Regions from separate parts of the Homo sapiens genome. Here region 2 is linked to region 1. The links come from fine-mapping of genetic effects on gene expression. Tissue or cell type: liver. Region 1 holds a variant in brackets; the other region holds the start of a gene. All regions are shown on one strand. Distances are from middle to middle.

Region 1 (5,153 bases):
CATTTAGCATCCTAATTTATTTCTCTTTTCTTTCTTACTTCTTCCATGTTTTCACTGGGAAATGTCTGTAAATTATTGCTTTTTGTTGTGTGTAAAAAGTCGTTCAACCAGCATTTTCCTTTGTTAGTGTGGGTTATTTATAGTTGAGTTTATGGTACTATTCTCAGCTTTATCATCCTGTTTCAAGGGTAATGATACTCCCAAAGAAATAAAGACTCAGTTTTGTTTCTAAGGATGTTCATTCATATCTCTATGTATCTGAAAAAAATGTCACTATGCAAAATGGAAAGTTCATATATTTTAAGGAAGGATCTAGAAACACATTATTTAATTGATTTTTTCTTTCAAAATGTCCCCAAGTTAATTTCAAATAGCCTTTTAAACATGTTTCTTTTTTACATTAATCTGTAAGGATAACTCCACATTGATCAACAGCCATTTTTAAAAAATGAGAATTGCCTTCTGCAGAGATATCTTTATTCTAACATGTTAAATCCACAGGGCTTTATACAAAATGAAAAAAATCAATAAAACGAATGATGTGATTCCTAGTGAAAAGTTGTTCTGTATAAACAAAATACTGTAATTTTTATCTGAAAAAGTCCTAAATTCTTAAAATTCCCTAATTATAATTGCAACTGCAAGAAGCCTAACAACAAAAAATATTGCTCTTTGAAAATGTTCTGCAAGCCCCTCTAATGACAATGACTACCATTGTGTTTGACAAGGATCCCACTGATGTTTGCTGCCAGGGGTACATGTCTCTAGCCTCAAAGATGGACTTAACTGAGGCATCCCCTGGGATGAGCTGGTCAGAAGAAGAGCAAGGGTGGGATGGACATGGATTTTGGCATTCAGTCGTCAGAAAATAAGAGACAATCTAATCATCACAATCTATTCTACAACTTTAGCCTCCTTAGCACAGATGGACTAACTGGCAGAGCGTATTAGAGGGGTTTTTGGGATGGCCTGCTTGCCCCTGTAACTCTGCTAGAGATATAAATGAAAAAAAAGTAGATGCTTAATAATTGTTTGCTGAAGGAGTCAGGAACTGAGAGGTCAAGTATTGCAAGTTCTCTCACAATTTTCAGTCTACTTCAGCCTAGAATCTGGGCCTCAGCCCGTAGCCACAGGTTTCTCTCTGGCTCTCTGCTGCAGAGGAGGATGGCACCCAACCAATTCTGTGCAGAAAGCCAGGAGAGTGCAGAAAATGTCATGCTCATGAGCAAAGTTCTGGGTACAAAGGACTTGTGGAGTCTGGAAATACCTGAATTTTCCTTGGAGAGGAAAGATTAGGCCTGAGAAGTTGTTCAAAATTGGACCCCTCCTTCCAAAGTGTGTCTGAAAAGTGTGTTTGGGATAGGCTTGTTATGTATGGCCTTTATCATGTTGATGTATGTTACTTCTAATCCAGTTTGTTGAGAGTTTTTATCATGAAGGGGTGCTGAATTTTATTGAATGCTTTTTCAGCATCTGTTGAAATTATCATATGGATTTTGTCCTTGATTCTGTTGATCATATATCATGTTTATTGATTTGCATGTATTGAACCATTACTGCATGGATGTGCTTTGAGAAGTGCTGCATGTTCAACAATAGCCAGTCAGATTAAAAGGTGCGCCTATAGGCCCAGAGCTGCCCATGTGCCATGGGAGAAGGACCAATAGCACTATGAGCTTCCTGCTAGGGCACACCAAAATGAAAGTGTTTGGTGTGAGATGTGTACCACATCCTCCAAGCCAAAATTCTGGCTTTCTTCTGGGCTGCCAGCTTTTTCATTTCACAAAAATTTCAGCCTTTCACTTCCCTTGCTCAGATTCTTTTTACCCTGGGATTTACCCTGAGATTTTTTATCCTGTAAAAAAACTACCCTGTAATTTTTTTTACCCTGAAATATTACTCTGTAATATTTTTACCCTGGGATTTACCCTGTCACAATCCATAACTTGGTTTTAGCTCCTGTTCTTCTGGTTTCATTTAGTCCTCAGTGCCCTGAAGCACGTGCCATCAGTGTCCCCTTTCTCCCTTTCTGTCATCATCCAGTGGGCTTTTCCCTGACTTCCAACTCCCAGTATTTTCATCTCAGTATCTCATTTCTTTTTCAGCAGAAGCACAGAAAACAGCTTTGCCTATGATCCATGATCAGTGAGCCAGAAGTGCCTGGGAATTAACAAACCCTGGGAGCAGCTTTCAACAATGACCTCAGGACAACTCCTGAGATATAAATACCCCAGCTCCCCTGCCTCTTGGATGCAGTAATTTGAAGGGGTATGTTCCCTGGCTCTCAGAGTTTCCTCAGTGAGATTAAACTCAAGTTGCATACAATACTAGTGGGACTGGTAAAGCACCCTTTTTCTTTTTTTGTATTCCTTCCCTTCTTCTTTACCCTTACACCCAGCATTTCCTAAAATTGCTATTTGCACTCAAATCCTTGTCTCAGGGTGCTCTGGAACAATACAAACTCCAGCACATGTCTAACATTAGGGGCTCTACCTCTACTCCCTTGCCATTTCTGTCTTTTTAAAAAACCTCTTGCTGAATCATCTAGATTCTATTTCTACAAAAGGATGGGCAATGGTTTAGAGATAAAAAAGGAAATTATATAAATGTCCAAATAATTTATACTTATGCTAGATATTCGGTGCTTTTAATCATTAGAAACCAAGGTTGTTGGCTTAGCACATCAAGTGAAAGAATTCAGTGAAACCAGGTAGAAAAGGGTACCAATATTTTTTTAGGAATGGTAATAGCTAATCATTTATTGAACACTAGTGACAATGTTTAAACTATGTGTGTGTTACTTAAGTTTATCTCTATGTTTAAACTATGTGTGTGTTACTTAAGTTTATCTCTACAATATTATTATATCTCTATAATATTATATAGATATATATGTAATATAATTATTATATCTCTATAATAAAC[C/T]TAAGAGGTAGATATACTTATTCCATTTTTACTGATGATGAATATGAATGGACCAAAGTAATTTGCCTTAAATCAGTCAGCTCATAATGGTCAAAATCCACATTTAAAGATCTTACTCATGTCAAAGTCCATTCTCTTAATTAGTCTACAGTCTTCCTTATAAGTTTTCTTTGAAGTAGATGGGAGATATATAATCAGTCCTACTTACTGATTCTGAAATGCAATTGATCAAATCATCATTCTGAAGGTGTAAGATTACAGCTTTTCTTTAAAAGGGATTGAGCTGGCTATAAATTGCAGTATAAATTCAGATTTATTCTGTTTCACCGTTTAATTCTTGGAAAAGACTACTCATAAAAATTCTCTAATGGCATTATTGGTATTATGCATTAAGAGCTAGAAAAATAGGTCAACATTTTAGACGTATTTCTGGTGGCGCATTTTGCTATTAGTCTACAAGGATTATAGCAGATCACTATCTTTAAATGACATTGCAACTTGAGGCTCAAATTCGATGATCCTGGGAAAGTTGAAATTTAGTGCCCTGTTTTGAGGTTAAACTATGGCTGCAAGTAATTTCTAGAAAACTGACATCCTGATAGACTTGAAAAATAAAAAAAAAAGAAAGAGGAAACAAATTAAAATTGTTCTATCAGGCTTTGCCAGGGTCTAGAAATCCTAATTTATAATGAAATTGGAGGTGAGCTAAGATAGCAATAGAATGAGAAGTTAGGAAAGGGAAGAAATTGACCAGGAACAGTGAATATACTGCTTACATTATCTTACATCAGAATTCAGGAGTCTCCAACATTCATTAACTAAATTCTCTCTTTTGTGTTTACTCTGATAGTTTTGTAGTTGTGATAATATTATAGATATAGTCTAGTTGTTGACATTTGGAGGTAAGAGTATCTCCAACCTGGGTCAGGTAGCAGTTTAGTAAAGTATTTTCTCTTCATTAAGACGAGAGGTGTTACCAAATGGAATAAGTATTTGACTTTTCTGTGTGACCACATGATATAGGTGTTAAATAGGTTTGTCTTCAGATGCAAACATCAGAAAACCTGACTAAAATCCCTCAGGATTGATGGGGTTTACTTTTTCTAAATAGTGCTAAGTCTGAAGGTAGGTGGCTCTGAGCATTTAGGGGTTTAGACATGTGAACTCTCCTTCCTGGTTGCAAGTAGCAATCCTGGCTTAATCAAGTTTATACTCAAGGCAGAAAGAAGAGAGAATGGATGACAAAAGCTTCCCCAGAACCCACATGTGGAGTTTTCCTATGTCTCATTAGCCAGAACTGGGTTATGTTGGCAAGCCCTTGCTGAAGCAGAGACCAGGAAGGTGAAGATTTAGTTTTTCTGCTCATACTGTGGAAGGTGAAAGGAATGGAGGTTAGGGAGGGTATAGAATTAGCAAGCCAAGAGTTCCTATGTAATGCCAACGTGTAAGTAGGATCTATAAATATTAAATCTAAGAAAACAAACTTTAGTAGAACATACCAAGAAGGACTAACTAATCATCACGGCTGCCCAGAACTGCAATGGGCTCCCCAGTAGGTAATTCATTCCCTATCAGAGCATATGTTTAAACACTGGGTGAATGAGCATTTGACCGATTTACTGTGGAGAAGATTTAAACATTAGATAGATAAGTGGTTGAACTTTATGTCTTCAAAGTTGTCTTCAAATCCTCAGGATTTTATGATACTCTGTAAGCATTCCAATTGCTTGCAATTTGAAAATTGTTTTTTCTTTGTGGTTCGCTTTTCTGTCATGGCCACTGGCACAAATCTGCTTTACTTTTATCTTAACATTAATATCCAACAGTGAGATATCTAGTCTCTACAAAGAAAATGTATTTATCTCTGACTGTGTTCTTATCTTAAATAAAAACCTTTTACCTCCTTCCAGAAATATTGACAGAATAGATGCTGAAAGAATTTTTTTCTAATGGATATGGTTTTTAATTTGATGCATTTTAAACTTTCAAAGGCTTCGTTAAAGCTCACACACATTGTCTTTTAGATGCCCAGTAGGATGTACATTTCTGTAGCAATCTCGAAGCACTTCCCCTATTTTTGTACAAACTTATGAGATAATCCCTATTTGGATTTGAGTCTATGTTCATGAAAGTCAGAAGTTGTTTAAAGAGAAAAATCATGTAAGTAGTGAGTTGAAATTTTGAACTGGGTAATACTGAAAGTTTTGAATTTTTGCCAAATACAGGCC
Region 2 (5,153 bases), 980 kb before region 1:
GCATGTCATTTGGAATTGGTCTAGAGCATATCTGAAGTGGACTGATTTTAGAATGACTATACTTAGCGCATTGTATGTGGAAATTAAAATAGGCTATTAGGCTGCACACCCATTTGAGGCAGGTCTTGATAAAAATATTTCATGAGAGAATTTTTTATTTTATAAGAAGATATTTTTTGCTTTTAGCACTAACAATTATATGAGTATTCAACAAATCAATCAGAAATAAACTTTATGAAAAGTAATATTTATATACAAATAAAAGTTACTTTCCAAAAGTGAACAGTGGCATTCCGGTTTGGGCACTGAATTGGAAGCCAAGAAAACACAGGCTGTGTCTCCGTTGAAAAGTATATTGTGTTATTTGCCTTAAATGGTTTTATTCCCAGCTCTATAATCATTGCCTACAGGGTGAGAAGAAAATGGAGATTTGGGGAAGAAATCTTTTACATGGTCAAAGTAAAAGAACAACAAAGAAACAACCACAACAGCAAAAATCCCTTCCTATAAATTCCAGGTTTCAAAAAGGTGTTTTTGAATAACATTAATTGGTTCTAAAATCTCTATGCACAAAGGTACAAAGCTGGACAACAGGGTAGGCCACAGTAAGAACAAATATTGGCAGCAATAGCTAGGTCAGGTGACAGGCCAGTGAGGTATGTGAACTATAAACTAGAGTGGCATGGGGTCAGTATCAGTGAATTTCTTCATGGAATATCAGTCAACAAATATACTTTAGATGCCTGCCATATGTGAGGCATGGAACTGGGGATACAGTGATTGACAGACAGATGTTGTTCCTGCCCTCCTTGGTCTACTGCAACTTTAGGCTCTGGCTTATGCGCTCCCTTGGCCGTTGGTTGGAAGGTCTTAGTAACTAATTTTGAATTAGCAGCTTTAGAATGCTGACTGGTCAATAAGCTGAAGAGCTTGGATAGCAGGGTAGCACCACTGAGAAAACCAGAGTTTTGGAGTCAGGTCAGACCTGAATTTGAGCCCAGTTCTGCAAGTTGTTGGAATTGAAATTTGGCAAATTATCTGATGCTCAGTTTTCTTATTGGTAAAATTATATTTTTTCATAAAATTATAATAAGAATTAAGTGGAATTCAACTAGTTGAGATAATATATATAACATGTTACTACAATGGATGGTATATTACACATACTTGATATTTCCTTTTCTGAGAGAAACAGTAAAACTAAACATAGGGACTAGAAGAAAGCTATCCTTTCTGAACCTGAGGAGGGCTGGGCATCCAGATGAAAGCTCTGGATGACTCATTTCTTCAACTATTGCTTTTTTCTTCCCTTTCAGGCTTGAACCCAGTGCTGACCCCCTCCCAAGAACTTCTTGTTCTTGCTTCCAGAGGATTGGAACTGTTCCAGGGGTAGCACTTAGAGAGCAGGACATGCCCATAAGCTTGAGGAAGGTACTGCTTACAAGAAATGAGTCACAGCAACTCCATTGCTTCCAACAACAAAGTGGATGAAAAACACTCAAGCCCCACTAAACAATACTCGGAGTTTTGCTGCGACAGACTGGTTAGACTATTTGGACACTACCATGAAGACTATATCCACCATTCTGCCTTCAAAGGAGGAGACTGCAGAGAGAAAAGGGGAAGAGGAACAGGAGGAAAAAGGGGGAGGGGAGGAAGTGGAGGAGGGGAAGAAGGACGTAATAGAGGAAGAGATATAGTTTTATTGTCACATAGAAATGACAGTAGGAATCAATTTTTTCACTGTTGGTCTTTAGGAAATCATCTGACTTTCTCTGAGTTAGAGTATGATCGATTATTAGAAAATGGTAAAATGTGTTAAAAACTCTCTTTGTACGGTTTTGTGAGAAATGTGTAATGCTTAAAGACTAACCAAGAGCCTCTTGGCTAAACCAGGTTGATGTCAACAATAGCTAGTACTTATTTGAGTCACCTTGATTTTCCCTCCTCTTGAGAACTTTCTCTAACCAGTTTAGGCTGCAGTCATGCCTCCTTTCCTTTCTCTGAACTCTCACAATTATTGCCTAGATCTCGTTTGGTAATTAATCATGTGCTACTTACTGCCTGTGTCATCTCTTGTATTGTTTTCTTAAAATATTTACACTTTTTTTTCGGTTGTCACTTATCTTTCCAGCTGTCATTTTCTTCAACTATTTACGTCTCTGTTACTCATCTTTCCAGCCATCCTGGCATCCCATTAAGGTGAAAGCTCTCTGAGGCAGGAACCTTTTCTCAGATTTCTTCGAGTCTTCCACAGCACCCCACATTTGACACACATCTGCTACTTCGCAAATGTGTGCTGCCTTGGCTAAATTTTTAGAAGCTGAACTTTTAGGAAAGCTACTATTTTTGAACTCAGAAAAATACCTACCATCCACTAAACAGCTGTACCGAAGTTTGGGTGACAGGGAACCTAAGTTCACTTGTTGCATCTGGCAGCCTCAAACCATGAACCCTCACTGCAAAGCGAGGATGAACGCGCTGCTGCACCTTGGAGAGCTCTTTCGGACAGGTACGGAGGGGAGGGCGTAGAAGAGGGCTGGCACCAGCAGCGCGGTCCAGTCCTCCGAACGGACTGATGGGACTGATGGGAGAGACCTCTTGCACCTCTCGGGGATGTGCGCCTCGGAGGATGCGAATTAGCTTGCGCACAGGGCGCCTTGGGGATAGCGCTGTCCAAGTACAGGCTTGGGTGATGGCTGGTGGGGTCCGGGTCGACATTTTCCCTTCCCGCTCCCGGACTTCTGCACACACGCGCTGCTCGGCGCAGCCGTCTTTGCCCGGCGCCTTCCTCCGGGACACCCAGCGAGAGGGGTGACCGGGCGGCGGCGGGAGAGGCGCACGCTCCCGGGCGCGGGCGAACTTGCGCACCTGGCACCTGCCACACAGCGAAAGCACCGGCCAGCGAGCGGAGGGGCGCCGCCCCCGCCCCCTCTCCCCGGAGCGGACCGAGACCGAGCACGCTCCCGCGGGCCGGCAGCGCCGCGGAGAGAGTGGGTGGGCAGGCGAGGGAGGGGAAGGGAGAGGAAGGAGGGAGGGAGGGAGAGGGCGAGGCGCGTTCCCGCGACGGGGGCGCGCTCTCGCGCGGGCTGCCGGGATCGCTCGCCGCCGCTGTGGTAATGTCCGCCATGTTGGCCATGGCGCAGGGAGCGGATCGGGCGGGCGAGCGGCGGATCTAGTGTGTGGAGGCGGCCGCGGGCGCGGGGGGCTGTTTTCGGGCGGGGTGGGCGCCCATGCTGTGGCCGGGGGCAGTGAGGAGGAGGAGGAGCGGGCCGGCCGCGCTGCACTGAGGAAGGAGGTGGAGGAGGCGGCGGGAGTCCTCCCCCCCTCCCCGCCCGCCCCGCCGCCGCCGCCCGGGCTGTTCCTGTAAGGCGGGGAGACAATGAGTAAACTCTCCTTCCGAGCGCGGGCGCTGGACGCCGCCAAGCCGCTGCCTATCTACCGCGGCAAGGACATGCCTGATCTCAACGACTGCGTCTCCATCAACCGGGCCGTGCCCCAGATGCCCACCGGGATGGAGAAGGAGGAGGAATCGGTAGGGACTCGAGTGTTTATTACCCCCCCTTCCCTCCTCCCCCCTCCCCTTTGTCAGTCGGGCCTCGCCATTCACAGAGCGCTTTACGCTCGCTGGAGGGCGCCGCTGCCGCTCTAACGCACGGGACTCTACGCCGGCGGAGTAGCGTAAACCCTCTCGGCCGGCGTAGCGCCCGCCCGCGGCCGCCATGTTGTTGCGTCCCAGTGTTGTGATTAGCTCGCAGCGCTGCTTACGCTGCCGTAAGGGGGCCTTGCCGTAAGCGGCGGCCGGGAATGGCGCAGGGGATGCGCTGGCCGCTCTTGGCGTACGGTCTCTGTTTACCTTTCCACCTCCCTCTCTCAGGCGCGGGGCTAATTAATGGCGTGGTATTATTTGGCTAGGCAAGATTATTATTTTTTCCACTTTTAACTTTGGCTTTGTATTGAGTTCTCTTTGAAATGACTGTGGAAGGGTGCTTTCAAAACAAACATCTTCCTCCCAGCAATGTAATCATCCTGGCTCCCCCGCCCGCGAAGGTGCAGCGGGATGAGGCGGTGCAGCACTGCGGCGGGGGAGGGCGGGGGCCACGACTACCGAGCGGGTCGTAGCGTCCGAGGGCCGCCCGCCGGCCAGTTCTGCCGACCCGAGCCGGGCGCGGGGCGGACGGGCTCTGCCTGCTCCGCCTGGACGGCCGTGCTCCGTGCGCAACGTTAGAGAGGAGCCGGGGATGCCCGGAAGCGAGCCGCCGGCGTTGCGTTGTCCTCGAGAATTGTCATTGCGAGGTGGTCCTTAGAAGTTGAGGACCTAGTGCATCTAAATTGGCAGTTGTAATTTTGATAATACAGCACCTTTTGGGAAAATTGCTGCTTTTCCTCCGATGGGTTAAATTTTGCAGACGGTTGGATTTCATCTGGCTTGACAGAGAGTGTTTATGACTCGAGTGGTGTTACTTGCGTGCGAAGTTCATAGTAACTGCACCCTCAAGAATTTCTTCAATGAACCTACAGTCCCGCCTTATTGTCAACCTCGGGTGTGTGTGGATTGGTTCTCTTGCTTCAGTGACTGTCAAAAGGAAGCTCGAGGTTTCAGTGATTGGTTTTCTCTTTTGACTATTAATATTGCAGGAAATGCTTTTATGCCTTCGATTGGCTGGTTGAGTTCTGACCTCATTATGTTACCCTGTTAATACTACTTTGCTCTTATTTAATCACATTTCTCTTTGATGTATAGTTACTTGAAAGTCTTACATTTTCAGTAGAAAATGCATATGGCCGTAGCATCGGGATGAACTTAACTGTGTGTGTACACACACAAATATGTAATAGATATATATACACGCACATACACATATATATTTGTGTGTGCATATATATAAATATGTTTATAATCAAAACCCAGCATTTATCCCTAAGGTTTAGAGCTGTGAGAACTTTTTTTTTTGTATGTGAGAACTTTTTTTTTTAATTTGTTTCTAACGACTCAGTTTTCCATGGGAAGGAAAATTAAAATAAAATCATATTATATACAATAGTTAATTACATTGAACCCTAATAAGCACAACTTTGGATATTTTTGCTATTTTGTGGGTCTTGATCCAAAGAAAGATGGCCTTAAAAGTACCAGTATTGTGTGTAATTAC

Which allele goes with the higher level. Positions count from the first base shown, and alleles are read on the strand shown. Sizes are in standard deviations (SD) of each study's normalised expression.
With allele T in place of C in region 1, the expression in liver of the gene that starts at base 3,116 in region 2 is lower (large effect, 0.79 SD a copy in GTEx).

The links. PIP is the estimated chance that this variant, and not a neighbour inherited with it, causes the effect.
Region 2: EPC2 starts here. The variant in region 1 is fine-mapped to the expression of EPC2 in liver (GTEx, PIP above 0.99).

Annotation. Positions count from the first base shown.
Region 1 is chr2:149,620,858-149,626,010 of GRCh38, forward strand. The region is part of intron 1 of MMADHC-DT (MMADHC divergent transcript); the gene reads left to right. Among named protein-coding and RNA genes, the nearest start is that of MMADHC, 36 kb to the left of the region's middle. The variant C/T (reference allele first, on the strand shown) is at 2,926.
Region 2 is chr2:148,641,636-148,646,788 of GRCh38, forward strand. EPC2 (enhancer of polycomb 2) reads left to right here and starts at 3,116. Exons shown (of 14, transcript NM_015630.4): 1 at 3,116-3,535. The coding sequence starts at 3,383. RefSeq lists silencers at 2,770-3,349, 4,110-4,199 and enhancers at 3,189-3,693, 4,290-4,439.